Linked DNA regions of Homo sapiens. The protein of the gene in region 3 interacts with the protein of the main gene of each other region in a biochemical or structural test. Each region holds a gene or a part of one and is shown on either strand. Other genes may lie near its edges.

The links.
Region 1: the proteins of ANOS1 (region 3) and FGFR3 form a complex in vitro, tested with the Homo sapiens proteins (one study listed by BioGRID).
Region 2: the proteins of ANOS1 (region 3) and FN1 form a complex in vitro, tested with the Homo sapiens proteins (one study listed by BioGRID).
Region 4: the proteins of ANOS1 (region 3) and FGFR1 form a complex in vitro, tested with the Homo sapiens proteins (3 studies listed by BioGRID and IntAct, with this or other methods).

The regions. Positions count from the first base shown.
Region 1 is NC_000004.12:1,795,461-1,803,297, reverse strand, and holds part of FGFR3 (fibroblast growth factor receptor 3 isoform 1 precursor), read right to left. Parts: intron 4,045-7,837; coding exon 3,775-4,044; intron 3,552-3,774; coding exon 3,486-3,551; intron 1,932-3,485; coding exon 1,762-1,931; intron 1,679-1,761; coding exon 1,555-1,678; intron 1,464-1,554; coding exon 1,273-1,463; intron 385-1,272; coding exon of another isoform or gene 234-384; intron 1-233.
Region 2 is NC_000002.12:215,404,785-215,412,621, forward strand, and holds part of FN1 (fibronectin isoform 1 precursor), read right to left. Parts: intron 5,331-7,837; coding exon 5,150-5,330; intron 4,956-5,149; coding exon 4,779-4,955; intron 3,643-4,778; coding exon 3,514-3,642; intron 3,414-3,513; coding exon 3,324-3,413; intron 2,538-3,323; coding exon 2,343-2,537; intron 1,727-2,342; coding exon 1,454-1,726; intron 1-1,453. UniProt on the Homo sapiens protein: Fibronectins bind cell surfaces and various compounds including collagen, fibrin, heparin, DNA, and actin. Fibronectins are involved in cell adhesion, cell motility, opsonization, wound healing, and maintenance of cell shape.
Region 3 is NC_000023.11:8,567,983-8,575,819, reverse strand, and holds part of ANOS1 (anosmin-1 isoform 1 precursor), read left to right. Parts: intron 1-5,115; coding exon 5,116-5,321; intron 5,322-7,443; coding exon 7,444-7,588; intron 7,589-7,837. UniProt on the Homo sapiens protein: Has a dual branch-promoting and guidance activity, which may play an important role in the patterning of mitral and tufted cell collaterals to the olfactory cortex. Chemoattractant for fetal olfactory epithelial cells.
Region 4 is NC_000008.11:38,423,391-38,431,227, forward strand, and holds part of FGFR1 (fibroblast growth factor receptor 1 isoform 1 precursor), read right to left. Parts: intron 6,559-7,837; coding exon 6,292-6,558; intron 5,046-6,291; coding exon 4,956-5,045; intron 4,704-4,955; coding exon 4,531-4,703; intron 2,856-4,530; coding exon 2,732-2,855; intron 1,310-2,731; coding exon 1,119-1,309; intron 1-1,118. UniProt on the Homo sapiens protein: Tyrosine-protein kinase that acts as a cell-surface receptor for fibroblast growth factors and plays an essential role in the regulation of embryonic development, cell proliferation, differentiation and migration.

The DNA.
Region 1 (7,837 bases), on a different chromosome or scaffold from region 3:
GGGCACCTCCTGTGGGGGTCGCAGGCGTGCGGGAAGGGTCGGCGCAGGCCACAGGGCTCGAAGCGGGCGGTCACCGTGGAGGCTGGAGCTGCCAGCCTTGCCGAGGCGGCCCCGAGTGGAGCGCGAGCCGGGGCGGGAGCGAGCAGGGCTGGGCGTGCGGGGCGTGCAGGGCGCGCGGCCAGGGCCTTGGAGCTGGAGCTCTTGTGCCGGCCGGCATGGGACAGAGTCGTTACCTGCTCGGGGCCCGTGAACGCTCAGCCAAAAGGCCTTCTCGGCCACGCCTATGAAATTGGTGGCTCGACAGAGGTACTCGCCCCCGTCCCGCTCCGACACATTGGCCAGGCGGAGGCGCACGTCGGCCTCCACACTCTCACTGATCCAGGACTGCGGGGACAAGAGACCCGGCTCAGGCACGCCCCCGAGGCAGCCCCGCCGGGCACGAGGCAGGATGTGGGAGACCCCCAAGGTACAGATCGAGGCTGGGCTGCGTCAGCCCCAAAGGCTGCCTGGAGGAGGCGTGGAGGCACTTCACGGTGGCTGTGGTTTCACAGGATGCACGTCTCTGCCTCCACCCCAACAACCCAGCCCAGACCCTCAGACAACCTCTGGTCACTGGCCTGCCCTCCCCCGGGCTCTTGCAGAACCTGCACCCTGGACAGGGCCCGAGGCGGCCTCTCTGGGCGGGGTCTGGACTCCACCCTCGCCCTGCGCCTGCTCCCCGCCCCCAAGAGACCGTCTTCTCTCTGAACAGATGTTTCTCTTTGGGCTTTGAGTGTCGCAACCGTCCCAATTCAGTGGCCCCCACCCGGCAGCCATGGGAACAAAGCTAAGGGCTTCAGGAGGCGGGCAGACAGTGAGCTCGGGCCCCACTGCACACAGCTGACGAGAGCCAATCGGCCAGGTCGGGGCTCAGCCACCGCCTCTGAGGCCCAGAGGGGGCCTGGAGGGCTTGGCCACACTGCCCTCCTGTCCTGGGGCACCACTGCTGCCCAAGCCGCACCCACCCCCAAGAAGCCCGTGGGCAGCTCCATGTCAGGGACTTCAGTGGCTGAGGCTGGCCCTCTGCAGACACGGAAACGGGTCCCAACGCAGCTGCCTATGGCCCTGAGGTGTGGGGTGGCTGAGACTTGGCCCCACAAGCACCCCCACAGCTTCTGCCCCCGAAGCTCCAACCCCTAGACCCAAATCCTCACGCAACCCGCAGCCAAGGGGCACCCTTGGGGCCAGCCCAGGAGCCCCAGCGGCGGCACCCACGTGCACACGGTGGCCCACCTTGAGCACGGTAACGTAGGGTGTGCCGTCCGGGCCCACCTTGCTGCCATTCACCTCCACGTGCTTGAGCCACTGGATGTGGGGCTGTGCGTCACTGTACACCTTGCAGTGGAACTCCACGTCGCTGCCCAGCACCGCCGTCTGGTTGGCCGGCAGCCCCGCCTGCAGGATGGGCCGGTGCGGGGAGCGCTCTGTGGGGGCAGATGACGCTCAGGGGCCACCCCCTCCCTCACCACCACCGCCACTGCCGCCCCCACCCCCGCGCCGCCCCAGGGCCCTCACCCAGCACGTCCAGCGTGTACGTCTGCCGGATGCTGCCAAACTTGTTCTCCACGACGCAGGTGTAGTTGCCGCGGTCCGAGGGCACCACGCTTTCCATGACCAGGCTCCACTGCTGATGCCGCAGCTGCACCGGGACGCGGGCGGGTGAGTGAGCGGAGGCAGCAACCACCGCGCCTGCCAGGCCCAGAGCCACCCCGCCGCGCCCACCTTGATGCCTCCAATGCGGTGCTCGCCGCGGAACTCCCTGCCGTTCTTCAGCCAGGAGATGGAGGGAGTGGGGTTGCCAGCGGCTGGGCAGCGGAAGCGGACGGTGTTGGCGGCCGGCACGGCCAGCAGCTTCTTGTCCATCCGCTCGGGCCGTGTCCAGTAAGGGGCCCCTGCGGGCCGAGGTGCGTGTGAAGGCCATGACCCGAGTGGGAGCAGAGGCCCCTCTGAACAACCCCCTTCCCAGAGCTGCCCCTGCCCATCCCCAGCCTCAGTTTCCCGTCCTGTGTAGGAAGAGGGCGGGATGAGGTTCCCAGGAGCCTCCACATCTTGTCCCCTCCCCGGGGCTTTCTCAGAGCTGGGCCGTGTGTCCCCTCCCCTCCCCTCCAGGGTGCTCTGCCCGGACCTGTGAAGTCACAGGGCACAGGGCATTGTCCAGGGGAGCCCACCTGCCCAGAGAGGCGTGCCAGGGCCAGGCCCACCAACGGGGAGACTGAAGACCCAGGGGGCAGGCCCATCTAGTGGACAAGCCAGGACCTGGGAGCAGTTTACCAGGAGAGGAGCCCAGTCGCCTGCAGAGCCAGGAGCCTTGGAGGCAGCTGGGCAGCATGGGCCCACGGAAATCAAGACCCTACACCACCCTCTGCAGAGCTCCAAGTCTGGCGGGCACCCAGAGACGGTGGCACCCTGGAGGCCCTGCCTCCTCCCATCTCGATGTCCAGGGCTCCCACCACCCCTCTCACAGCCCAACTGGTTTTTCTCCTTCCTCAGGGCTGGTGCTGCCTTCCTGCCGGGACTCCAGGCAAGGATGGGCTGGCATTCCCCAGGAGGGAAGCAGCCCTCCCCTCAGTGAGCTCACTGCCAGCCCCCTCCAGGCACACGCCCATCAGGGGCACTGAGGCCCAGCAAGCAGCAGTGTGGACACAGGCTGGAAAGAGGCACCCCACGGTGCTGAGCTCCCTCCCAGGCCTCCTGGAGACCCCCAGGGTGAGTTCCCCCAGCTGTTTCTCTCATGGACTCAGCCTCCCTTCCTCACCTGCTTACCCCACTGGCCCAGGGACCCAGCGCACACACCATCAGTCCGCAAGTCGTAACTGCCCCCCATGTCTGTGCCACGATGACCCTCACCTGCACGCACTCCCCTCAGAGCTCCCTCCAAAACCAGAAGCCCCACCTCCCCACCCTACAACTTGGCAAAGTCCACCTGCCACCGTTCCAGGCCGGGACGCCAGGCATCGTCCCCGACTGCTCTCTCACAGCCGCAGCCCACCCACCAGCCACCCTCCTGCCAGCCACCCTGCCCGCCACTGGTTGTGGCAGGTGCCCCGGCGCCCTCACCCCGGGTCCATCCACCCCACGGCAGCCACCTGAGTGCCCTGCCCTGCTGCGCTAATGTCTGCGGGGTCCACCTCACCTATAGCCAACACCAGAGCCCCACAGGCCAGCCCTGGCCTCCTCCTGCTCCTGGAACCCCCAGGGCCCTGTGCCTCAGTCTCCCCATCAGCAACACGGTGTCCCCTTGCACCCCAGCCCTGCCACCAGGGTGGGGCATCTAGAGCCATGTCAGTGACCCAGCCCCTCCTGTATCCTGAGGGGACCAGACCTTCGGGGTGACCCCAGGGAGGTTGTTCCGGGGCCTTAGTCCCTCAGCTGCCTGTGAAGGGCAGGGCTTGGCGGTGGCAGCGGGCCCCACCCCGGCTGGCCTGAACCCTGGACCCTGCTCCTACCTGTGTCCACACCTGTGTCCTCAGCCTCGTCCTCCCCGTCTTCGTCATCTCCCGAGGATGGAGCGTCTGCAAGGCAGAGATGGCCGCAACCAATGCCCAACCTGCCCCAGGAGGCCCCCAGGTGCCCCTCCCAGATGGGGCAGGGTCCCCCATTTGGGCAGCACTTCCTGGGGGTGCCCTCCTCTCCACCAATGACCAGAGAGACCCCCAGCCGCTCCTGACCCACGCAGGGACTCAGGGAGCCCGGCACTCGGCTCCTTTCTGTAGCTGGCGTGGCCCCAGAGCTCACCTGTCACCCGCACACTGAAGTGGCACAGTACGCGCTGCGTGAGCCGCTGCCGGCAGCTGTAGGCCCCGGAGTCCTCGTGGGAGGCATTCAGCACCTGCAGCCGCTGGGGCCCCACCAGGACACGCTCCGAGGGCACCAGCCCTGTGCCATCCTTGACCCAGACAGTGGGCCCCATGGGACCACCCCCGGGCGGGGGACAGCTCAGCTCCACAGCATCCCCGCTGCCGAAGACCAACTGCTCCTGCTGGCCGGGCTCTGGGCCCGGGACTTCTGTGGGGAAGATGGGCAACCATGAGGCAGGCACCCCCAAACCCGGCACCGTTTACAGACACAGCAGTGGAAGCCTCGGCGGCCCTGAGTGAGGAAGGCTCTGACCCAGATCCAGGGTCCCACCAGACCAGGGGCTGGAAACTGTGTCCCAAAAGGGCCAAAGGTCTCTATCTTCAGCTTTGCCAACCAGTCTGTCCCAAGGACTCCGGTCTGCCTCGGTGTGACAGCCGCCTTCCCCACACAACCTGCAGCCAACCCCACAGCAGTGGCCCCATGATGCTTCACTCATGGACACGGAGAATTCAAATCTCAAAGTGTCACAAAATGTGACTCTTCGTTCTTTTAATTTGTTCAATTGCTTGGAAACATAAAATCCATGCTTGTCTCACAGGCGGCACCACGACGGGCAGGTGCTGCGGGCAAAGGGGACAGGCTGCCCTTTGCTGGCCTCTGACTGAAATGGAGCTCAGAGGGGGTGCCAGGGTTGGCCAGCCAGCCCCCTCGTGGTGCAGATTCACCCCAGGAGGGGTCCGTCCTCAGTAGCCCCCGCACCCCATATGAGCCTGAAAAGCAGTTCAGATGGACAGCCAGGGAACAGAACAGGCGAGAAGGAAGGAGGTGCAGGGTCACGTGGCCGTGTGGACGGTCTGGGGGGCGATGCGCGGGTTCACCGGTCAGAGCACAGGCCGGAGCAGCGCGAGGGGGCCGGGGCGGGGGTGGGGGCTCCTTGGGGTGGGCAAGGTTCTGTATCCTGCAGCTCCTATGGAAGCTCCACACGGCGGTCATGACGGAAAACATACCGAGAAGAGCAAAGTACAAACACGGCGCTGGGTCCGGCCAAGTGGGTCTCACAGGCCGGGGAGTGGGGAGGCCCAGGCGGGCCCTCAAGGGGGCCGGGGGGTGGAGTCCTGCTGCCTGCAGGGGGACTGGGGCCCCCTCACAGAGGACGACCAGGCTGGGGGCAGGAAGCTGTGAGAGCCAGGGCAGGTCAGCAGCCCTGGCCCCTCCCTGGGGGCTGAGAAGCTGGGGTGGGGGCCCACCCACAGGGGCAGATGTGCAGGTGGCCCCTGGGTCCCTCCCCAGTAGCTGCCCAGCTCCCCAGAGCCACCAAAGCCTGTGACCCAAGGACACACCATGGGCAGGGCTGGGGGGACAATCGCCCCTAGGCTTCCCTGCCAGGGCCAGACAATGCATGCAGGCAGGCGTCCCGGGCTTGGGGCCGGGACGGGGGTGGGTGGTCCCCCAGGCAGCCTCCTTCTTCAGACCCAGCTGGGCGGGTTGCGCCATCACTTGTCATTCTGCAGACGCGTGGCCTAGATTCGGGGGCCCAGCTGCCCACTCTGGCCACACCAGTCCCTGGCTGCCCGGCCAGGCCCTCTTCTGCCCAACCCACCTGATCCAGCCACACACGCCTAGTGCCCAGGGTGACCCTGCCAGCCAGAAGGGCCCACACTCATCCCCTGAAGCATCCGAAGGAGCCCTCGCCCCACCGGGACCCACAGCTCAAGGACTGCCCCTGTAGGGACCCCGCAGTCAGGGGGGCTCCTGGCCTGACCTCCAGCCCTCCGGTCCTGGCCAGTGTCTTGTGGGGACCACCCAGAGCTGGGAGCTGCTCGAGGCCCCCCAGAAGGCCGAGAACAGGCTGGTTATGGCAGCCTCAGCTGCAGGCCCTGGCCCAAGGGCAACAGCCGGTTGGTTCCGGTTTGGTCTGAGTGGCGACAACAGGTCAAGCCATCCACACAAGTATTTGCTTCAGCCTGGTCCAGCACGGGGGGACGGGGGACACAGCAGCCCCAGGCCAGCCACACCAGTGGCCATCTGCCCGTGTGTGGTGGGGAGGGTGCAGCCCTGACTGCCCCCCCCACTGCCTGCCTGCTAGGTGCCAGCAGAGGCCAGGGTACCCCAGCAGGGGCTGGGTGGCGAGCACCAGGTGAAGGACAGTGTGACACGGGGCATGAGTGGGTGCTATAAGTTCAGGGTCTGACTCCCACTGGGAAGTCAGCAGTTGGGTGGAGCCCCCATACCCCACCCAGCTGCCAGGCATGGGGAGAGCTATAGCCCCCCAGCAGCCCTAGGAAGGGTTCTTTCTTTCTTGATCCACAAAAGGGAGGCCCCACTGACACCACACAGACACTGGTGCCCAAACACGTTGGAGACAAAACTCCTGCTGTACCCAAGGCGGGGTAGGAGGCAACGCGTCCCACCTCCCACCCTTCTATGGATCCCACAACACGTGCTCCTGCCGGCGCCCCAACCCCACACAGTGCCGACCTCAACTTGGGCTCCACATGCCAACGACAGCCCTCTGCTGTGTCCCAGAGTCTCCACAACTCTGCCACTCACTGGTCCTGTACCTCAGTTTCCCCCACTGTGGCACAAAGTAAAAATCCCACCCCACAGGCCCAGGAGCTCAGGGAGGGCACCAGGCCCTGAAATGGCTGCAGGAGTGAGGGTAGGGGTGAGAGGCGCTCCCTGCCCTGGGTCTCTGGCCCCAAGACTGATGTCCATTAGGCAGGGTGCTGGGGACGGCCAAACTCTGGCCTGGGGAACCTTTCTCCAGGCTCTGGGTCTCTGCAGTGGAGGCCCAGTGCATGTGAGGGAGCATGGCTGAGAGGATGGGGGAGCCTTGCTCCATCATAAGCCCCTCGGGTTGACCCCAGAGAACAAGGATCAAATCCAGACTCGCTTCCGGAGCTGGCTGCCCCAGGGGTTTATTTGGGTTTTGGGGTGAGATGAGGGCCTGGGGTCAGGAAACAACACATTCTGGTTTCGGATGCACATGAAGTTCTCTGCAGCTCTCTGGGGTACAGGAGGTATTGCCAGGTAGGAGCTATAAAATAGCCTAAGAGGAGGGGGCCCCCAAAAGTCCAGCCTCCCTGTCTCCCCACCTGGAGTTTCACAATAAAGTCCGGAAAAAAGGGATCTGGAGGCTGGGCAGGCTAAAGAGGGCTTGCCAGGGTTATCTGGCCTAATCCTTCAAACAGCCTGCCATTATCGGTTCTCTTGGACAGGTAAGGAAACTGAGGTTCGAAGAGGGCACCCGAGCCTGAGCTGGCAGCCTAGAGGTCCAGGCTGACCCCTACCCCACCAAAGGTGGCTCCACTCCTGGCTCATTCACTCCTGAATCACTCAGGTGAGGGCTGCATGCCTCCCTAGATGAGGTGACTTTAGATCCCCGTCCTCCAGGAGACCCCAAGCCCCTGGGCTCCCACTCAAGCTCAGCTGTAACAAGGGGTGCCACAGCCCCAGATCTAGCCCCAAGTGAGACCTGAGGGCTGGGGAGCTGGGGGGTGGGTAACAAGGGGTTCCTAGGCTCACACAAGGACCTGGAGGCCAGGCTCAGCCCAGGTTAATGAACCACCCAGAGGCCCACGCGGCTCAAAGTCCAGCCCTGCAGAGGAGGAGTGGGGGAGGTTGCAGCCAGCACCTTCGGGAAAGGCCCTGCACCCCCAGACCCCTGCTGGGTGGGGTGGGACTGTGGGAGAGCCGACCTTGTGTACCTCCCTGCACCCTGGGGGGTCACTCCAGGTCCCAACCAGGAATACGGCCCCCTGGGGAGATGGGGGCTGTCCTGGCAGGGCCTGGGGTGGCCAGGGCAGTCCAGTGGCCAAAACCTTTCCCACCGCCCTTGACCCCTGCGAGCCAAGGCTCCATAATTTATGTTCCCGGGCAAGCGCCAGCCTAGACCTCAGTCCATTTCACGAGGTCTTTGTATTTTTACTGCCCGGCCCATCTTGTTAAGGAACCGGATTAAGTTTATTGACCGATCAACTCACTACCTGTTTCACCAGCT
Region 2 (7,837 bases), on a different chromosome or scaffold from region 3:
GGAAAAACTGAGCCAGTAAGAGATTGAGTGCTACACAAAACTTTGCCAAAACTCTGCCAGTCATGAGAAATTGTGGAACCATTTTGCTTGACTGTGATCCTTTGGGAAGTCTAATTTTCCAGCAAGACTTTCGCATCAGTCTCAGAAATTATAGTTACATTAAAGCAATGGTATTTTTAAAAAGGCAAAACAAACACTTCTGAAGTTCACAGTTAGCTCTGAGCCAAACAGATTAAGGAAAAAGGGATATGCCTCCTAAAATGACAGCAAGAAGAAGCTCTCTATGGGTCAAAAGCAATATTCTGTGAATAGCCCTTTGCTAGAGAAATAAAAGTTATTTTCACATGGTTCAGATTAGACAGTAATTACAGTAATGATAACGTATCCTCAGATTCATGGTAGGATACTGGTGAGTTTGCACTATCAGAATCACATAAGTTGTGGAGTTTATTCTTGAGAATAATAACCAGCAGTTTTCCCACCGAAATTTAAATTACCTTTCAAATAGAGGAAATCTTTAAGAGGCAGTCGAGTATAATAATTGAGAGCATGGGCTTCGGACATAGGTTATAGAGCCAGCTCTATCCCTTCCTATCTCTGTGACCCTACAAGTTGCAGAACTTTTTTAAAGCCTCAGTTTCTTTAAGTATTCAATACGGATACTAGTAAGACCTTCCGGCTGGGCACGATGGCTCACGCCTGTAATCCCAGCACTTTGGGAGGCCAAAGTGGGTGGATCACTTGAGGTCAGGAGTTTCAGACCAGCTTGGCCAACACAGCGAAACCCATTTCTACTAAAAACACAAAAATTAGCAGGGCATGGTGGCACACGCCTGTAGTCCCAGCTACTCGGGAGGCTGAGGCAGGAGAATTGCTTGAACCCAGGTGGTAGAGGTTCCAGTGAGCTGAGATGGTGCCACTGTACTCCAGCCCTGGCGACAGAGCGAGACTCCATCTCAAAAAAATAAATAAATAAAATAATAATAATAAGACCTTCCTTCCTAAGGTCAAAACAAAGAGTAAATATGAGAATAATGCTTGTAAAAACTGAGCAGATAAGCTGGTGGCTAGTAATACTAGACACTTGACAATTGCTATTGTTAAATGAATTCTACTCTAAGTGTTATGATCCTGCATTTTAACTTTGATCTAGATATATTTAGTTACACGAAAAATGCACTCAAATTAGATTCTCTTCAGTTCTCCCCTCTTAGTACCCTTCAGCTGGTACATGTATTTTAGAAATGGGTTACCACTTAGCATCCATGGAGCTTGTCTGAGTTTTGTTTTCAAGTTTAATGTGCTTTGTGTTCACTATGCATTCCCTTGCCGGCTGGGTATTTCCCTCTCTCTAAGCCATACACCTCTGAGTGAATGGTTTACTGCACTTTCTCACAGGCTGCAAGTGAGGGTGGAGAATTTGGAGGGGAGATAGAGATAGGAGAAGACATACTGGTTGTCTGTTGAGCAGTCAGAGGCTTGCTCTCCCTCCCATGGCTCACTGCAAAGACTTTGAAGTAATAGGTGACCCCAGGGGACAGCCCGGTGACTTCTGCAAAGGTGTTCCTGCTGATGGGCAGCCTCTGCCCGTGCTCGCCAGGCAGGTTGACGGGGATCACATCCACACGGTAGCCGGTCACTGCACTCTCAGGCGGTGTCCACATGATGGTGACCTTCACGTCTGTCACTTCCACAAACTGCAGGTCCCTGGGAGAGGGCACTGTATCTGACAGACAAGAGTCAACTGGTCATTCACATTCTCTGCTGAAGATTACTTTTAAGAAGCCAGTTTCTTGGATATGTTAGGCAGTTCATTGAGCCTCTCATTCGAGAGTTTTGCTAAGTTTTGTCTCTTAATCAGATCACATTTTCATGGTCCAGTCATAGTGCTTAAATTATGACATTTGAACCTTTTATCTAAAATAGGTAATAAGTGAGTTACCAGCATATGAAGTGTCATATGGTGGTGGGGGGAGAGGGTTATAAGAAAAGATACTAAAAAATTTTTTAGAAAAAGCCTTTGAAATAACTGCAGAAAATAATGTAACAGTTTTTGTTTTACTGAATCATTTTATAATACTTAAGAATCAAAAATGAAATGACCCTTAAGCTTCTAGGGGAAAATTTGTAGATGGACGTTATGGTGTCAGTTTTTAATCAGAAAGGCCAGTAGCCAGCTTTGATAAGTTACTTATGACATTTCAGCTAAATATCAGAAGTTTAGGGAAAAACTAATATATAAGATTTCTTGAATGAGAGGACTGTTGACAGAGACAAAACAACCCTCCTTCAGGAACAATCCTGATAAGATAACATAGGAAGTGTCTTCTTAAAAAAGTTACCTGAGCGTGGGGTGCCAGTGGTTTCTTGTTGAATGACAACAGGTGTACTTTCTTGATTTTCTTCCACAGCATAGATAGTGATGTTATACTGAACACCAGGTTGCAAGTCACTGAGGGTGACGGAGTTTGCAGTTTCAGGAAGGTTGAGTTCTGTGCTGCTACCTTCTACTGATGGCGAATAGACTATTCTGTACCCTGCAGATTCATGAGCAAAAGTAAGATGCACTGTTTTCTTTGAGACAGAGGCTTAGAAACACCATAAATCCTCCCTTTTCTAATATCCCTTAGCATCTTGCTTGATTAGTGAAGAGCCAGTGATACTTTTTGACTCTTTGAATATTGCCACTTCTTCTAATAATGACTATTCAGCACGAAGATAAAATAAGAACAGTCATGCGAACCTTTTTAATAATAAATGTCATCCTTGAAGACCTGACATCCTTAATAAATGTCAATTAGAGATGCCATTAGGTGAAAATATTCATGTTAAGCTGATTTTTCCTCTTTGAGCTCCAGACGAGGGAAGCAATTAATGAACCAGCCTAAGCAGAGTTGTCTAGCACTGTGTGTGTCTTTTTGGAACTTCAGTGATGAGGCAGTTGAATCACCTAATGAGCTAAGACGACAGCTCAGCTTTCTCCTTAAGGATAAATCTTAGAGCAACGTTTTCAGGAAATTACACCTCTTCAACCCTGGGAACACTTGCTTTAATAAGCCAATGAGCTGGCTTTACAGGTTGTGTGTATGTTGTGGTGTGTGTGTATAAGGGAGTTGGTGAAATGGTTTCAAGGGGAAATGTGCCATAGAAAATAACTCCCCCACCCCCGCCACACACACACACACACACACACACAAACCCCTCTCCCATAAATTATATTGGAGATTTAAAGTGATATGCAGGTCCGCAGTCAGAATCTGCGCCCTCCCTGCTGATGTCATTAAGATTAACATAGCAGCCAAAGAGGGGGACGCTTAGCTGACCTGTGATGGGAGCCTGGGGTCTGCTCCAGCGAACAACAATTGAGGTGTCATCAACTTGGTCCACAGTCGTGTCAGGAGGGGCATCAGGCGCTAAGAAAGAAAGAAAGTGGGGCAAACAGTCAGGAAGTGCTACTACAGGCCTGTGTTTTACAGAAAAAGATTCTTTTAACACTATGTAGCACACATGTACCTGTTGTTTGTGAAGTAGACAGGATCAAACTCTGCTCCCCATCCTCAGATATCTGATAGACATTTACAATGTATTTTCGGCCAGGAAGCAGGTCAGGGATGTTCACAGAAGTGGCTGTGCTTGGAAGATCTTTGAAATGAAAAGAAAAGGTAACTAATCAGAGCAAACTAGTCCCTCAAATGACTCTACAGCTTATAAGAAGGATATTTTAAGAATTATATATTCATAGGGAAAAGCGACTAGAAGGTAATGTGCTAATAGCTAATCAGTGATTATTATTATTATTTTTACACAGAGTCTTGCTGTGTTGCCCAGGCTGGAGTGCAGTGGCACAATTTCAGCTCACTGCATCCTCTACCTTTCCGGTTCAAGCAATTCTTCTGCCTCGGCCTCCCGAGTAGCTGGGATTACAGGTGCACACCACCACACCCGGCTATTTTTTTTGCATTTTTATTAGAGATGGAGGTTCACCATGTTGGCCAGGCTGATCTCGAACTCCTGGCCTCAAGTGATCCACCAGCCTCAGCTTCCCGAAGTGCTGAGATTATAGGAGTTAGCCACCGCACCCACCTAATCTGTGATTATTAATGTACTATGGGAAAACACCACTTCTTGTCTTTCTCCTTTCTCCTCCTCCTCCTTCTTCCTTTCATTTTTCCAACTTTTTTTCTAAAGACGTATAATTTTTGTAATCGAATGCCAAATTTTTAAAAATAGCTCTCTGCAGTAAGAGTCAGGGTAGTGATTATTGGCGGAAGATGATGGGGTGAGGGTAGAGAGATATTCTTTTCCTTGATCTGGGTGCTGGTCTTGTGGTGTGTTCACTTTATAAGAATTCAAATTCACTGAACTCAGTGCTTACGATGGCACACACTTCAGTGCGCCAATGAAGTTTTTTAAAGGCCCCTCACCATAACAATTTGAAAAGTATGAGTGACCGTACTGTGCTCACATTGTCAGCTGCAGTCCTGGTAATTACTTCCACCAAGAACACAGCTTTTGCTGTAGGAACTTGTGCACAGGTAGGCGCATGATGCAGCTGGCATCAGGGACCAGGAACATGTGACAGTGGCTTGGGAAAAACCCGGCCACTTCTTAGAAAGAGTCAGTCCTTCCCTTCCTCATGCCAGAGGGTGGTTTGTTCAGTCTGAGCTGTCAACCAGTTCCAAACCACAGATACCACCTGCCTAGAGGCCACCCACCCCCACAAGGAGAGTTTTCCAGCAGCTGCCCTGAACCTGTCTTGAGCGACATATTGAGCTTACCCAGGTACTGTGGCTCATCTCCCTCCTCACTCAGCTCATATTCCACCCGGAATCCCGACACGGTGTCGGAAGCTGAGACCCAGGAGACCACAAAGCTACTGGCTGTGATTTCGGTCACAGATTCAGAAGTGGCCACAAGAGGAGAAAAGGGAGTCGTCTCTCCTGTCACGGTGTTGCCTAGAGAGTCACAGAAAGGGGAAAGTCAGCCTTCAGTCATCTAGAAAATTTACCGTCCTCGTCGCCAACATCATTTTAAAAAACGTTGGTGCCCCTCCTGGAAGAATATGAATTGAGAAGGAAAGCATTGCCTCAGGAGAGCCTAGCTCTAGGAACCTCGGGGGTAGGAGGCATGAGGGTGGTTGTGTACATACTGGTCACAGGTGTGCTGGTGCTGGTGGTGGTGAAGTCAAAGCGAGTCACTTCTTGGTGGCCGTACTGCTGGATGCTGATGAGCTGGCCCTCGTATACCACACCAGGCTTCAGGCCTTTGATGGTGTAGGAGTTTAAGTGGCCTGGTATGGTAGCTTCCTTCCAACGGCCTACAGAATTTTTCTGAAAATTTAAATTAACACACACACACACACACACACGTGTTTACAAGGATGAACATTTGAAGATGATGTTCAGTAATCTTCAAAGAAAAATGACTTAAGCAGGACTTAGGCAGCTCCATTCTAGAGGAAAATCATGGAAAACTGGATTCCCAATGGTTATATCGTTAGATATAGTTAGATATAATGCTAACTATTGTTAACATCAACAAACTGCTGCAGTTTACTTACTGATACCCATACTCTGTGCTGTTTACCTACATTCTCCCATTTAGTCTCCATATCCTTCTGATGATAAGGCAATGGCATTGTTGCTCCCGTTTTACAGACGGAAAAACAGAGTGATATGTGATATGCCCGGGGTGACATAGTTGCAGACACTGGGCACCTTCACTTTTTTTTTTTTTTTTTGAGACAGAGTTTTGCTCTTGTTGCCCAGGCTAGAGTGCAGTGGCTCAATCTCAGCTCACTGCAAACTCCACCTCCCAGGTTTAAGCGCTTCTCCTGCCTCAGCCTCCCGAGTAGCTGGGATTAGAGGCGTGTGCCACCATGCCTGGCTAATTTTATATTTTTAGTAGAGATGGGGTTTCTCCATGTTGGTCAGGCTGGTCTCGAACTCCCGACCTCAGGTGATCCACCCGCCTCGGACTCCCAAAGTGCTGGGATTACAAGCGTGAGCCACCACGCCCACCCACACCTTCACTTTTACCAAGTTAATTGTGTTATATCAGTAACATAATATGATGAACCTAAGCTTTGCCTCTCTCACTTATTTTTTATTCCTACCACAAACAGATATATTCCTCTCTGAAGTACAGAAATGCCAATGCCATATATTTTATCTTTTAACTCAGTGGGATACAATTCAAGTTTCTTGTCCTGAAAAAACAAAGGCAGAATGTTGCTTTGTGACTCATCATATACCAGGTTCAACGAGTCTGGTTTTGTGACTCATTCTTGGATATGAGCTACCCCATCAGAAGTGGTTACCCAATTTTGGACAAGACTACAGAAAAAATGCAATTTTGGTTTATTTAATCTTTTGCTTCCAGTTTATATTTCACATCCTGTTCAGCTTCATTAATATGCCATGGGTCACAAAACTCAGTGCAATAAAATGTGTATGAAAGAAACACCCTTCAGAAAAGATGAGACTCTTTCAAGTGTAAATACTCTAAACTAATATAAGTCAAAATATATTTTTTGTGCCCAGTGATTTTTAAAAATTACCCAGTCAACCATTTCCTCAATAATTCAAATACTCAAGTGTCCATTTATATTTTTGGAATAAGCGAGAGTGATCGTAGTACTCTTCACAGTGAAATTTTAACTCAAATACACTGTGGAAAATTTTGAAACCAGTCATTGCAATTAGCTCAAATTTAGTAATCATTTTTCAACATGAGCTTGTTTGGTTAGTTATTACAAGAAAATAACAGAAAATAAAGTCTCAGGTGGCATCCATTAGAAAAAACCCTGAATTTTTGTAATTGTTAAAAATCTCAAAAAATTCATCACTGCTGCTTTTTGAAGACTTTCCAATTCAATGTACTTTTTTTTTTTTTTTTTTGAGATGGAGTTTCGCTCTTGTTGCCCAGGCTGGAGTGCAGTGGCGTGATCCTGGCTCACTGCAACCTCCGCCTTCTGGTTTCAAGCGATTCTCCTGCCTCAGCTTCCCGAGTAGCTGGGATTACAGGTATGCGCCACCATGCCCAGCTAATTTTTTTGTATTTTTAATAGAGACGGGGTTTCACCATGTTGGCCAGGATGCTCTCGATCTCTTGACCTCGTGATCCGCCCACCTTGGCCTCCCAAAGTGCTGGGATTACAGGCGTGAGCCACTGCGCCTGGCCCAAAGTACATTTTATACCACTTTTAAGTCTCCCATTGCAATGGTCTCACATAATACTTTGGATATCCTTAATTTTAAAGTAAATAAAATTAATGATGTAATAAGAAGATGAGAGACTAGAAGATATTGGATGCACTGATGCTGTTGATTTCGATCACTGGACATCAAGTTCTGCAAATGGCCAGATTATGGACATAGGGTGAAAGAAGAAAAAGAATGACTTTTCTTTTTTTTTTTTTCATTCACCATTTGTTAAGCAGTGTGCCAGGTGCTGAAGCATTCTAGACTCTACGGAGACTACATTGAGCCAATGAGAAAGACACGATTCCCCTCTTTAAGGGAATCTGTTTCCATTTTCTATTATTCTGGTCTTGCCTCCATGTAGACAACATGCTTACACCTCTATTTGTTTCATTTGTCAACAATAAGTCATATTTACAGAGTCTTTAATATGAGACTTGATGATTTATTTATATATTTATTTATGTTGACACAGGGTCTTTCTCTGTCTCCCAGGCTGGAGTGCAGTAGTGCCATCTTGGCTCACTGCAACTTCCGCCTCTCAAGCTCAAGCGATCCTTCCGCCTCAGCCTCCCAAGTAGCTGGGACTACAGGTGCATGCTACCATGCCCGGCTAATTTTTAGCCACTGTGCCC
Region 3 (7,837 bases):
GTTTTACAGTTTTATGGTGATTATTTTGGGGGAGAAAGAGATGGGAGTACCTTATCTTGGTAATGGAAGTTTGCCATTTTGGTATTGTAAATTCAAAATGGGCCTTCCTTTTGAGAAAAATGTAAAGAAAATATTATTAATTCATATCTTTTAATGCATTGTTTTCTCAAATGTTGTTTTCATAAATTGTGTTGTTTCATGTTTCATAATGTTTCATAAAATAGATGATGTTATTCTAGATTATTATGATAACATCTAAGAAAAATTTTCCAGGGCAGGAAATGATGTAATGAATAACATAAACTAAAGAAGATGATCAAATTCAGTGACCTTCTTAAATGTTAGAGTTTCTTTAGAAGAGGAGATTATTTTGAGCTTTTCCTTCTGAGCCTAGAATATCTGCAATATTCATGTGACTACTTATTTTCAGCATATAGACATTCAGGTGCATTGCCGAGAACACGAACGGCTGTTATTTTCACACATTTTAATTCTTCTCTTGCCTTGAAGTGACGATTCAGTTGTAAACTAGGTTCCCTCCCAGAAAGGTTGGTAACTACCTTTTGTAGGTTAAGGATTGATTCCTACACCAGAGGAAGAGGTGTTGCTTTAATTATTTTATTTCAAACTGGGAAGAACACTCCTTTGATTTTGCAATTCACTTTAGGATCTTGTGATCTAGCAATTCTGATTGACAGAGTTTGAACCTGAAACTGAAATATCACATTACAAATCAAAGCTAACGTTTAGAAGCCTGTCCTTCATTTATTCATTCAGCAATTGCTTACTGAGCACATACTGTGTGCTAGGTGCTCTTCTGGACTCTGGAGATACAGATGTGAAAAAACAAGCAAACATTCCTCCTCTCAGGGAGCTTTCATTATCGTGAGTAGAAGCAGACAGCAAACAAGGTACCTAATAAGTCAGTTTGTGTATTAGTCACGGTTCTCTAGAGGGACAGAACTAATAGGATAGATGTATATATAAAGGGGAGTTTACTAAGGAGTATTGACTCACACAATCCCAAGATGAGTTCCCACAATAGGCCATCTGCAAGCTAAGGAGCAAGGAAGCCAGTCCAAGTCCCCAAAACTCCAAAGTAGGGAAGCCGACAGTGCAGCCCTTCGGTCTGTGTTCAAAGGTCTGAGTCCCAAAGCTGAAGAACTTGGAGTCTGATGTTCGAGGGCAGGAAGCATCCAGCACAGGAGGAAGATGTAGGCCAGAAGACTAAACCAGTCTAAAATTTCCACATTCTTCTCCCTGCTTTTATTCTGGCTGCACTGGCAGCTGATTGGAATGGTGCCCACCCAGATTGAGGGAGGGTCTGCCTTTTCCAGTCCAGTGACTCAAATGTTAATCTCCATGGCAGCACCCTCACAGACATACCCAAGATCAACACTTTGCATCCTTCAATCCAATCAAGTTGACACTCAATATTTACCATAACAGTTAGTAATAAGGGCTTGGAGAATAATAAAGCAAGGCATAATCATGGTGACTTTTTTTTTTTTTTTTTGGTAAATGGAGCAAAGCATATGTAGCTATTTTAAATAGGGTCACCACCTGCAGCAGGAAAGGAGCCAGCCGTGGAGACATCAGGGAAAGCGTTTAGGCAAAGGGAGAGGAAAAGCCTCAGTAGCATCGCGGTTTTCCTCTCCAAGAAACAGCATGGGAACCAGTGTGGCTGGGCTGAGGGGTGGAGGTGATAAAATGAAAGGTGCTCTGGGAGGTAACTGAGGCACGGGTTGCAAGGCATTCAGGAGACTCCTGGGTTTTTACCCTAAGTAAGGAGATTCTGTGCACAGGAGTGACATGGTCTGGCAGTATAGAATCATCAGACTGCTGTATTCAGAAAAACCTCTAGGGAGGCAGTGGAGAGCCCTTGGCACTTGGCCCAGGGCATTGGAAGTGGTAAAAGGCAGTTAAATTCCTGTTACACTTTGAAGGTAGTGCTAACACAATTTGCTCAAGAGATATGAGTGGAAAATAAATGTATGACTTCAAGGGTTGGGGCCAGAGCAACTGGAAAGAGCAATTCCCATGTACTGAGATGGGGGTGTCAGTGGTGGGCTGTGTGTGGTAGGATATGTGTTGGTGGTGGGCTGTGCATAGGGATCATGATTTTTCTTTGGGACACATTAGTTTTGAAATGCCTCTGAGACCTCCAAGTGGAGCTACTGGAAGGTATTTTTTGAGTATTGATATTTGAATGATTGGATCTGCATTCAGGAGCATAGTCTATGTTAAAGATATCAATTTGAAAGTTATCAGCACAAAGATTTTTTTAAAACTGTGACACCTGATGAGATCCCTAGAGAGTGAGTGTAGATGAGAAGAGAGAGGCCCCTGAATTCAGATGCAGAACACTCTCCTGTCTAGAGATTATGAGATGTTAAGGATCATGGAGCATGGGGCTGAAAAATAGCTTCTGTTGAAACTGAATGAAAATCCAGTAGAGACCAGGCGTGGTGGCTCACATCTGTAATCCCAGCACTTTGGGAGGCCAAGGCGAGTGGATCACCTGATGTCAGGAGTTCAAGACCAGCCTGGCAAACATGGTGAAACCCCATCTCTACAAAAATACAAAAATTAGCCAGGCATGATGGCAGGTGCCTGTAATGCCAGCTACTTGGGAGGCCAAGGTGGGAGAATCTCTTAAACTAGGCAGGCGGGCAGAGGTTGCAGCGAGCCAAGATCACACCATTGCACTCCAGCCTGGGTGACAGGGTGAGACTCTGTCTCAAAAAAAAAAAAAAAAAAAAATCCAGTAGAGTAGTGTCCTGAACACCAAATGAAGCCTGCATTTCTTAGAGAAGGAAGTGATCAGCAGTGTTGTGAATATTGATGACTGGGGGAGTCCTCACATGGCTCTGCCAGACCTCCATATTGGGGTGCTTCCCATTCCAATAACGACAGGAAAAATACATTTCCTCCTTACATATGTGATGTTCAGACCTCATAGGAGCCACCTGATGCAGTACTTTTGACCTGCAGGTCATCTACCTCATATTACCTGTGTGTTTCATATAAGATATACATAATCCTGGGTCCCACCTGCACTCAGGGAATCAGCATATCCCAGTATAAGTCTTGGACATTCCAGAGATTCCTGATGTTGATTGAGAATGACTTGACTCAGAAATACCATTTGATCCAGCAATCTCATTACTGGTTATATACCCAAAGGAATATAAATCATTCTATTATAAAGATGCATGCACACTTGTGTACATTGCAGCACTATTCACAATAGCAAAGACATGGAATGAACCCAAATGCCCATCAACAGTAGACTGGATAAAGAAAATGTGGAACATATCCACCATGGAATACTATGCAGCCATGAAAAGGAACAAGATCATGTCCTTTGCAGGGACATGGATGGAGCTGGAAGCCATTATCCTCAGCAAACTAATGCAGGAACAGAAAACGAAAGACTGCATGCTCTCAGTTCTAAGTGGGAGCCGAAGGATGAGAACACATGGACACATGGAGGGGAGCAACACACACCAGGGCCTGCTTGGGGGAGGTGGGGAGGTAGAGCATCAGGAAGAACAGCTAAATGGTTGCTGGGCTTAATACCTAGGTGATGGGTTGATTTGTGCAGCAAACCACCATGGCACATATTTACCTCTGTAACAAGCCTGCACATGTACCCTGGAACTGAAAATAAAAGTTAATTTAAAAAAAAAATGACTTGACTAGCAGTATCACATAATATGCTTTCAATTAGCCTCTTACCTAAAAAATACTATGAAGCTTTCTTATTTTAGAAAATAAAGGAACTAACCTAACTAAATGTCCAGACATGATATATCATAGAGGAAAGCAAGAAATTTCAAAAAATAAGTTATGTTTCCATCATTCCAAAACCACAAATGACTGAGAATAAAAACAAGGATTTTTTTTCTCCAGTCTTCTTCATGTATATCAAGTTAGATATTACTTTTTTGAGCCTCCAACACAGATGGTGCTATAATTAGAATTATTGACAGCATCTTCCCGTGATGGCATCTTGAAATGAAACCCTCTGTAAATCACTGGTGGTGAGCAGCATCTCCACTTGCTCAATTTGTAATAGAAAATGAAGTAAAGACCCTCCAGCTTTGGTATATTTAATCTTCTTCATATATGTATTTTCAGTGGAGATTTGTGAGGTGGTAATTCCAGCACCTCATCTTTCTCTTGACAGCTGAGAAGGTTTTTGTTAATAAGACAAACCAGAAATGGTACAATCACAAAAATGAATGCTATCCATAAGTCATCCAGTGTGCAATGTGGATAAAAAATGGTGCAGGTTTTTATATTTTTTTTCTTTTCTGATTTCCCTTTATTGTTCTTAACTGATGCAAGAATTGCTAGCTACAGGGCACGAAGATGAAAACAATTGCTTTTATGAGCTGAATTTCTTTTTCTTTTCAGAGTGTTAAAAGGTGATTCTTTGTTGCTTACCTATTTAATGTCAATTCACCCACATTGAATTGTACTATATTTTACTAAAATATGTCAATTTCAGCACAGTAAAAATTTGGCTGGGTTGCCGTGGTATGGAAATGCCTAAAACGATCCTTCTGTATTACAAATTTGGACCAAACAAATTTATCTTACTGTTTAATACTCTATCTTTTAATTTGAGGCTTAACAAGGAGATCTTACTTAACTGCTTGTTTTCAGCTTTGCCTTTCTTTTACTTTTTTTTTTTTTTTTTGAGACAGTGTCTCATTCTCTTGCGCAGGCTGGTATGCAGTGGTGCTAATCGCGGCTCACTGCAGCCTTGACCTCCCGGGTTCAAGCGCTCCTTCCGCCTCAGCTTCCTGAGTAGCTGGGACCACAGGCATGCACCACCCTGCCCAGCTAATTTTTTAAATTTTGTAGAGACAGGGTTTCACTATGTTGCCCAGGCTGTCCTCAAACTCCTGAGCTCAAGATATCTGCCAGCCTCAGCCTTGCAAAGTGCTGGGATTGCAGACATGAGCCACCATGCCCCTCCACCCCCGTTTTCAGCTTTTCTATCTATAAAAAGCAATGCTTCACGTGTTGACCATGTAGTCATTACATGTCCAAAGATGTTAGTTTTGTGGAGTCATATGATGTGTCTTTGTACTGGGATTTCAGATCCATCTGCCCCACCAGCACCGGCTAACCTCCGGCTGGCCAACTCCACCGTCAACAGTGATGGGAGTGTGACCGTCACTATAGTTTGGGATCTCCCCGAGGAGCCGGACATCCCTGTGCATCATTACAAGGTCTTTTGGAGCTGGATGGTCAGCAGTAAGTCTCTTGTCCCAACAAAGAAGAAGCGGAGAAAGACTACGGATGGGGTGAGTGGGAACTGGAGGAAGGATTGTTATTCCCACAGAGGGTATTTCAACTCAAGGCAACTGGCCTGAAAAGAGGCCTCTGCTAAACTGAGAGATGCCATGGATGCAGGAAAGCTTCCCTCCCATTCATTTCTACCGAGGAAGTTCACAGAATGCAGGGGCATGCCGGCTGTTTTGCCTTTTATATTTTAGGCAGAAGCATTTGCATTTAGACCATTGACCTACTCCTATCTAAATGTCAGTCAGAACTCTGGAAATCAAAGGAACAGTTTAAATGATCCCCATCTTACCTGTCTGGCCATAGAAAATGATATTATGCAAAATGTACTTTACTTTTAAGTTTTTTTTTTTTTTTTTTGAGAGAGAGAGATCCTTGTAAATGGAAGAGTGGATGTTCATGGCTTTTCTGTTGCGAAGTGTTTCCGTCTGTAATCTAATCACTGAGCAGTAACAGCTTAGGAAGGCCACGTCTCACAATATGTTCTTCTCATTGATTAAAAGGATCTGGAGTGGTTTATCCGTCAGATGCCAAGAAATAAAATCTTCATTGAACCATTTTCTGCAATGAGATTCTTATGATAACAAGCATCTTGTATTATTTGAAATGCTTACTGCATAAAAATAGTTATTTGGATTCCTTTTAGTATACATTCCTTTATCTTGTCATAAAATTTACATAAATACCTTTTCCTATCACTTATAAAGTTGAATTCCATAAATAAATGTTTAGAAATGAAAAGATAGCAAGGCTAAAGATTTCAATATCTGTGCTCTTCAGAATTATAAAACATGCCTCAAAAAGTTGGTATCATTGATATTTAGCCATTATACTATTTTAACTTTATTTATTTATTTTTGAGAGGGAGTCTCGCTCTGTCTCTCAGACTGGAGTGCAGTGGAGCAATCTCGGCTCACTGCAAGCTCCGCCTCCCGGGTTCACGCCATTCTCCTGCCTCAGCCTCCCGAGTAGCTGGGACTACAGGCGCCCGCCACCACACCCAGCTAATTTTTTGTATTTTTAGTAGAGACAGGGTTTCACCATGTTAGCCAGGATGATCTCTATCTCCTGACCTCGTGATCCGCCCACCTTGGCCTCCCAAAGTGCTGGGATTACAGGCGTGAGCCACCACGCCCAGCCCCACTTTATTTTTATGAAATTTTATGACAGTTCCATTTTTTATATTGAAGGATTTTGCTACAAATGATAATGGTAGTGCACACTTATTGCATGAGCTGGAAGAGCTGAAATTGGGGAATCACTTAGGAATCTAGAGCAAAAAGTGACATGATGAAATGCTGACAGGTCCCACCCTCCAGCCCCCTGCCCAATACATTATGACAGAAAATAATGAAGCACCTTGAAGCATTTTGTCAAGTTAATTTTTCTTTTGTATAGCTTTTGGTGGAAATTTGCTCCTAGAAAATTTAGAACAGATATCAAAGAATTGCAATTAGTGCCAATTCATAATTTTTCCATGTATGTGGCAACATAGATCTCTGTTACTTTATTATAAACAGCTCCCTTTCCTTCGAGAGGTGGTGTCTCAGAGTGGCGAGGGCTCAGAATGATTTATTTCCATGGTATCTGAGACCAATAATTGGTTTAGAAACAGTATTTCAAAATACATTTGGCCTTTCTATGAAGTTTATTTTTATTTTTTATTTCATTATATTTTTTGAGACAGGGTCTCACTCTGTTGCCCAGGCTGGAGTGCAGTGGTGCGATCACAGCTCACTGCAGCCACAACCTCCTGGGTTCAATCTTCTCACCTCAGCCTCCTGAGTAGCTGGAACTACAAGTGCACACCACCATGCCCAATTAATTTTTTTTGTAGAGACAGTCTTGCTATGTTGCCCAGGTAGTCTCAAACTCCTGGGCTCAAGCGATCCTCCCACCTCGGGCTCCCAAAGTGCTGGGATTGCAGTCAGGAGCCACCGCACCTGGCCTGAAGTTTATTTTGATCAGTAGTAAAACTGAATTTTCAGATCCCAAAGATATAGAAAAGTTGGTAAAAGAAATCAGAAGTTGGCATGCTTCATAATGACACACGAGATTTTGCAATGAAGATGAGAGACGTGGAAGGTTTGTAACGCATTTTGGGTATATTCTCTTAATTTCTAGTTTCAAAATTCTGTGATCCTGGAGAAACTCCAGCCAGACTGTGACTATGTTGTGGAATTGCAAGCCATAACGTACTGGGGACAGACACGGCTGAAGAGTGCAAAGGTGTCCCTTCACTTCACATCGACACATGCAACCAACAACAGTAAGTGACTGTGTCATGTTTTTCAAGATGATTGTGACATGATGGGCGCCATATCACAACAAGGCACAATGGAGGGAGAGTGAGTTTTTGATTTGGAATAATTATATGGCAAATCTTCTTACCCACATGCATGTGACTAAAGTATTTAAACTACGACATACGAAACAGTTTGACTTTTGAATTCTTTCTTATGGTTTTTATCTATTGTAGGTGCAATTTTGGTGTTGTAATGGAAATTTAAGAAAACTT
Region 4 (7,837 bases), on a different chromosome or scaffold from region 3:
AGCTCACTGCAACCTCTGCCTTCTGGGTTCAAGCAGTTAGCTTGCCTCAGCCTCCTGAGTAGCTGGGACTACAGGTGCCAACCACTATGCACAGCTAATTTTTGTATTTTTAGTAGAGATGGGGTTTCACCATGTTGGCCGGGCTGGTCTCAAACTCCTGACCTCAAGTGATCTAAAGTGCTGGGATTACAGGCGTGAGCCACTGCGCCCGGCCTTCTTTCCCTTTTACAAGTACAGAACAAGTGGACTTCAAAAGTCCAAAGCATTTGATTAAAAAAAAAAAAAAAAAAAAAGAATCACTGCTTCAAATGGAATGTTCTATTTGTGTTTAACCCACTCCCTCCAGGACTGGAGCAGGGGTTGTGAGTGGAGACAGTGGCCAATGACCTACAGAGCAGTTTTAGCACCAGCAGCAAAGAGAAGAGAAGGGAGGGCCAGTATATCTCTGAGACAGCTAAGCTAGGGGAGGATGAGGTCTAACTCTGGGACAAAGAGGTAAACAACTTTCCCAGCTTCTGGTTCCTTCCTGTTGCGAGATCCACTGGAGATTTAGGCAATTACCTTCCCTGGATTAATGGAGCATTCAGGGACAATGAATGTCTGGGAGTGAGAGGAAAAAGGAAGAAAATGCCATTACTCCTCGTCCTCATATGGCTTAGAATTTATATATGGCATTTGTTTTTCCAACTCTTCGTAAGAGATGCTCTTATCATGCACCCCATTTGCCAGAAAGATCGTACGTAACTCAGGACACAGGGCTAAGACTGGGAAACGCTTGGTGGAAAGGCTCTGGTTTCGGGCAATGAAAAGGCAGGGGTCCAAATGCCTTCCTTGTGTAGCTGACCCCAAAGCCCCAGTGACGTTGCTCTCAAAGCTTATTACAGACCAGCACCACCCATCCCTGCAGCCCTCTGTTCCCAGCTCACCTCCACTTTGTGACCTCTGTTACTAGTCCTGGGGGATGTGGCTAGATCCCTACTGAGATGGAGTGTGTGTGCCTGAAGCGTGAGGAATGATCCCATTCGGGGGCAACTGAGCCTGCCCACAGGAACTTGAGCCCCCGAGACAGTGGTCTCCTTCCCAGTAGACTGGCCCACGAAGACTGGTGCCATGATTACCTTCAAGATCTGGACATAAGGCAGGTTGTCTGGGCCAATCTTGCTCCCATTCACCTCGATGTGCTTTAGCCACTGGATGTGCGGCTGCGGGTCACTGTACACCTTACACATGAACTCCACGTTGCTACCCAGGGCCACTGTTTTGTTGGCGGGCAACCCTGCTTGCAGGATGGGCCGGTGAGGGGACCGCTCTGTGGAAGATGGGAGAGGAGGCACTTGTCATGGGGACCTTGCCATGGCTAAAGAGGGGTGGGCTCACCTGCGCCCCACTTGGCTTTCCCAGTGATGGGTTGTAAACCTCCCAGCACTTCTGCTGAGCCCAAGCCTCTCAAAACAGAGCTGGGGAAAGGGACACCCTCTCTTCAGGCCCTAAGCCATCAGGATCCTCCTCCCCAAGGCAGTCATCATATTTACAGTCACAGTAAGTCGCTCATGCTTTAATGGAGAACCTTCTAATTCAGTTGCACCCCCAGACCTCAGCACAACCTGCTCCTCCTTAAAAAACCAGAGTCACTTTGACTCCTGCTATTCAAAGTGTGGTCCACGAGCAGTGCTACCAGCATCCCCTAGGAGCTTGTTAGAAACGCGGAATCTCAGATCTTACCCCAACCTCTTGGATCAGAATCTCCTTTTTACCTTTTTTTTTTTTAAAGGCAGGGTCTCACTCTGTCACCCATGCTGGAGCACAAGGGTGTCATCATAGCTCACTGCAGCTTCGAATTCCTGGGCTCAAGTGATCTTCCCACCTCAGTAGCCTCAGTTAACTCAGCTGGTACTACAAGTACATGACACTGCACTAGGCTAATTTTTAAATTTTTTTATAGAGACAGGGTCTCACTGTGTTGCCCAGGCTGGTCTCACACTCCTGGCCTCAAGCAATCCTCCAGCCTTGGCCTCCTAAAGTGATGGGATCACAGGCGTGAGTAATCCCATCATGCCACCTGGAGCTCATAAGCCACTGCTCCTGGCCACAATCTCCTTCTTAGACCATATCATCATAATCAAGAAGAACACTGGCTGAGAGATTCTGTACCCAATGATCTCTAGGGAGTGAGTTTCAGAACTCCTAGAAGGAAAAGGTTGCGGTAATAGCTCCAAGAGGCTCAATGTTCTTCCCAGAGTCTCCTGTGATGCCCTGAAGTTGGCACAGGTGTGCAGTTCTGCATTAGCAAGGTGTCTGACCTCTCTGAGCCTATGCGCCTGTGCTCCTGTGCAGGGCTAGACTAATACTGCCCACCTTGCAGGTGTGCCATGAGCATTACAGGGCAGGTATTTAAGGAGCCTGGCATCTTGCTAGCATTAAGCGACAGCTCCTATTACGCTACATTTAACACCTCTCCAACAACGCCTCCTTCAGGACAGACTCTGAACAGCACCTTCAATTTCACAGTGACAACCAGCTTTGACCGTGTTACTGTCTGATCTTAACTCTATTTTACAGATAAGAAAAGTGAGGCTCAAAAGGGAGAAGTGACCTGCTCAAGGTGACAAAGCCAAGAAGTGCCAATCGCTATCCTGACTCTGCCCCTAAGAAACCTGGACACCCCGGCTGTGTTCTCCAAGCCTGGCTCTTCCCACTAAACTCATTCCTCCTGCTGCCTCTGCCCTCTTACCCACGACATCCAGCTGGTATGTGTGGTTGATGCTGCCGTACTCATTCTCCACAATGCAGGTGTAGTTGCCCTTGTCAGAGGGCACCACAGAGTCCATTATGATGCTCCAGGTGGCATAACGGACCTGAGGGGAAATGCCAAAGGGATACATTGAGGGTCCAGAGGAAAATGCAGGCCCCATGACAATGTCGGCACCCCGTGGCACCTGCCCTCCATATCAGAGCCTGGTGGCACAGGGCCCCAGGCTGCAGGGTTGGCTAGGACAAGGCGTGGATTGCCCCCCTACCAGCCCGTTCACACTCTGCAAGCTGGCAGATGGGGTGTAAAGACTCCAGAAGTCTCCACTGTGACGTTCAAGATCATTCGTGATCCGGACAGATGTGCCTTCTGCAAACACTCCCAAATACACCAAGAATGTTCCCAACTGTGCACCTCTCCTATTACACTAAGAATCCAGCCCCCACTGTCCTTGACAGCTCATTTCAAAAACCATCTCCTCCAGTCCAGTCTCTGGTCAGAACTGTGCTCACCCTTTCCTCTCTGCCTACCAAAGCACTGATCACAGTCTACTTTTTACGGTAGCTGCTCATGGACATTTGCCTCCTATCAGACTGCAAAATTTTTATGGGCAGGAACGCTATCTTGCAGCATTTAAAGCATGGTGTCTTGCATGTAGTGAGTGCATGGTGAATTAATTTAAAATATTTCTGGCTGGGTGCGGTGGCTCAAGCCTGTAATCCCAGCTCTTTGGGAGGCCCAGGCGGACAGATCACTTGAGGTCATGAGTTCAAGACCAGCCTGGCCAACATGGGGAAACCCCGTCTCTACTAAAAATACAAAAATTAGCTGGGAATGGTGGCTGCACATCCCAGGTACTCGGGAGGCTGAGGCAGGAGAATGGCATGAACCTGGGAGGTGGAGCTTGCAGTGAGCCAAGATGGCACCACTGCACTCCAGCCTGGGTGACAGAGTGAGACTCCGTCTAAAAAAAAAAAAAAAATGCTTACACCCTTTAAGTTAGTAATTTCACTTGTAACAATCTGTCCTAAGGAAGCACGCTTAAAAAAATGCTGACAGAGATTCACTGCAACATTATTTATTATGGTGAAAAACCAGAAAATACCTAATATCACAAAATAGTTCATTAAATTATAGGACTTTTTCTGTTGTTTTTTGGAGACAGAGTCTCACTCTGTCACCCAGGCTAGAGTGAAATGACGTGATCTCAGCTCACTGCAACCTCTGTCTCCTGGGTTCAAGCAATCTCCTGCTTCAGCCTCCCCAGTAGCTGGGATTACAGGAGCCTGCCACCACACATGGCTAATTTTTTGTATTTTTAGTACAGAGGAGGTTTCGCCATGTTGCCCAGGCTGGTCTCGAACTCCTGAGCTCAGGCAATCCGCCCACCTCGGCCTCCCAAAGTGATAGGATTTTAGGCGTGAGCCACCATGCCCAGCCAAATTATGGGATTTTAAAATAATGGAATCTTATACAGTCATGAAAAATTATGTTTCAAATATTCATGCTTGAAATATATCAGGAAAAGACTCATGTTAACAAATGACAAGGCAAGGAAATTACATACATGATGTGATCAACTATGTAAAAACCATATTACAGAAAGAAGACTGAAGAAATGTTTAAACTTTATTTGCATTTTTTTGTATTTAAAAATTTTAATGAATAACCTGTATAGGTGGAAAGTATTACTTAAAAAAATGAAAAGCATGTAATCAGGACTTCCTAACTCGGCCTCCCCTGTTCCCATTACTCTAACTTTCGCATGCACACACACGTACCTTGTAGCCTCCAATTCTGTGGTCAGGTTTGAATTCTTTGCCATTTTTCAACCAGCGCAGTGTGGGGTTTGGGGTCCCACTGGAAGGGCATTTGAACTTCACTGTCTTGGCAGCCGGCACTGCATGCAATTTCTTTTCCATCTTTTCTGGGGATGTCCAATATGGAGCTACGGCTGCCCGGGGAAAGCCAAGAGAGACAGGCAGGGTGGAGAGGAGCAGCTGGTCAGGCTCAGGAGCAGGGCCCAGGCCAGGACCTGGAGGTGTCTTGCCCATCTGCCCAACACCTGTGAGCAGTGCCTGGCACTTAGCAGAACAGGCACCGTGACCCCATGTGCCCTCCTCTTCCTCCCCTTTCAGCCTTCCCCTCCCCTCTTAAACCCAATGCCCAGACCCAAAGGGCAGTAAGATAGGAAACAGTGTCTCACGCATACGGTTTGGTTTGGTGTTATCTGTTTCTTTCTCCTCTGAAGAGGAGTCATCATCATCATCATCATCCTCCGAGGAGGGGAGAGCATCTATGGGAAGAAGAAGGGGCACTGAGGTTCCTCCTAGGGACCCCTAGATTTCACCAAGGCTAGTGCAGTTCCAGATGAACACGGACACCCTCCCCATGGGGATCCCAGTCCCACTGCTCCCTTAGTGATGATCTCTTGGTGGGATGGAAACTGTTTAAGAACAGTTCCTGTGCGTGTTTGCTTCCTTCCCCGAAGCACTGCCCCCACTGCCTGGAAGCCTTCACACTGGGTGGTTCCATCAGGGTCAGCTGTTCCTATTTAACTTAATTCCGTCCTACATTCAAAGGCGCTTTCTCAACTTGTGGTGCCACCTGGGTGTGCTGGAGCCAGGCAACCTGTATTCTTCTTTGGACGGCTGACTATAGGGAAACCCAGGCAGGTCTAGACACACTGTGGCTAGATGCTATTTCCAAAGGATGGGCTAAACACCCCACAGTCAGAATTTTTCTAGCATGTGTCTACTAAGGTTTGGGGGCTGCCCTCCTTAATCAGAGCAGATAGGGCACCCACCACCCCAGCAGCTGCCAACACCTCTCCCCAATAAGTATTTATTTCTTGTAAGAACACGCTTGATACACATGTGGTCACCCATCAGGGTTCATGCCAGATCTTTCTCCAGTCCTTCCTATCACCTTTGGGGATCTGCTGCCAAGTCCACACCCTGAGGTGCATAAATGGCATAAAGAAAATTTCAGCTCCACTTCCTCAACTCCTAGTTTTGTGAAAGTCACATTCTAAGAGTGGCAAGTTCCCAAGTTCACAGAGCTCCAGGGCTCCCTGGCTGCCCTCGCACAGCTCCCTTGCGGTGCACCTGGGTTCCTCTCCAGCAGAGCAGGGATACCACCACCTGTTCAGGGCCTCTAATCACTAAGCCGAGTACCAAGTCCAAATGGCAAGGGAGTGATGGAGTGGAAGCTGGCCGAGCACCACTTAGCCTCCTGGAGATCTGGGCAAGCTGTGGTGGAAAAAAATCACAGGGTCTTAACATCCCAAGAGCCCTGGCAATCACCTCCGAGGTGTGTCCTGGAAGCCCCAGATCTCCGGCCCTGGGGCCCACCCCACCTAGTCACCTCTCTGAGAGCCAAGCCACGCGGCAGGCAGGGAGCAATGTTAGTGGGCAGCAGTTTCTGAAGCAGAGTGGGGGCAGATCACGGAGGGGGAGGAGGTTCACCTTCCTCTGAAACTGGCAGAGAGGGCTGGAGGGGGTGGGTCTAGGGAGGGGCAAGGGCAGGGCTTGGCTACCAACCTGAAACATTGACGGAGAAGTAGGTGGTGTCACTGCCCGAGGGGCTGCTGGTTACGCAAGCATAGAGGCCGGAGTCTGCGGGCACGGAGTCCTGCACCTCCACCTCCTCCCCTGTGATGCGGGTGCGGTTGCTTTCCGCCAGCTGCACCCCGTCCCGCAGCCAGTTGATGCTCTGCACATCGTCCCGCAGCCGACAGCGAAGCTGCAGCAGGTCACCGGGGTGGACCAGGAAGGACTCCACTTCCACAGGGGCTCCCCAGGGCTGGGCTGCAGCCACCACGGGGCCGGGAAGGGAAGCCAAGGGGCGAGAGAGGAAGACAGGGAGAGGGGAGGAGGGGAGAGACAAAGGGAATTACGCTGGCCACACGGAGCCGCACCATCCTGGGCATCACTTACTGGAGGCTACTGAGCCAGGGCAGTGGGAATTGGAGCATGGGTCAGTGGGGAAAACAGCTGGCTGCCTGGGAACCCCCATCTCTTTTCCACCCCACTCCTCCAAAAGTCAAAGGAAGAAAGAGGCAAAGTTAGGAAGCAGCTGTAGCAGCATTAAGCGCATTTCATTTCCCCCATCCTAAGGGGAAAGGTCGGCCCTCCCCAGGACTTCTTTGTGTCCGGAGTTGCCCCCTCCCCAGATGCTCAGTTCTTTGCCAAGATTGCCACTTGCCAGAGGAACACCCCATTTCCTTTGGGATAGCTCAGCCTCACCCTTCCCTAGCAACAGCTGAACAAACCCCGCCCCTCAAAACCCCAGCAGCCCCTGCCCAAGTCGAGAGAAGGCAATTTGTCAACTGGGGGCTGACCAGGATGCGTGTGATTCGGAGAGGGTGGGGGTCTGGCCCTCGACGCGTCAGATGCACATGCTGGGGGGGCAGCCCAAGGAGAGGTCAGCTCAGGGAACCTCTCGCTAACAGGTGTCAGGGCAGGGGATTTGGAGCTGTTGACTATATTAGGACGGGAGGCCACAGCTGCCATAAAACCCACACTTGCTCTGGCAGCAGGAGCTGTCGCACACAAAGGTCCTTTCTCCTCAGCCCTCTGACTGGGCACACCCTCAGGCCCCCCACCATCCACTCTCCCTCCCCGTGCCCCATCCTTCTCTGTCCCTGGGTGGGAGCACTGGACCCACCGGGGTGTCTGCACCTCACAAGATCTGATACCACCAAGAGCACCTGTCCCTCCCCTGACCAGTGCCTCTTCCCGCACGCGTTCAAGAAGGCCCGTGGCCCGGACACACCTGAGTTCACCATCCTGGGCTGTTACCCATCTCCTGAGCACACCCCTCTGCACTCACGAGGGGAAATGAACTTTCTATTTCCTTTTAGGATGTTCAAATGTACTCCTGGCATCTTCCACCTCTCACCTACCACCCACATCCCGCCCACAGCCTTGGAGAGGACTTTTCTCACCATTTGTTCACCCTAAGAGACTCAGTGGAGCGACTGCCGCTCCCCGATGCATAAGGCTCTGAAACAGCATGTTCTCCCTCAGCCCCTGCTGTGGCTCACGGCTGCCCCAGTGGCCACAGGGCCCCTGATTTTTTTCTGTC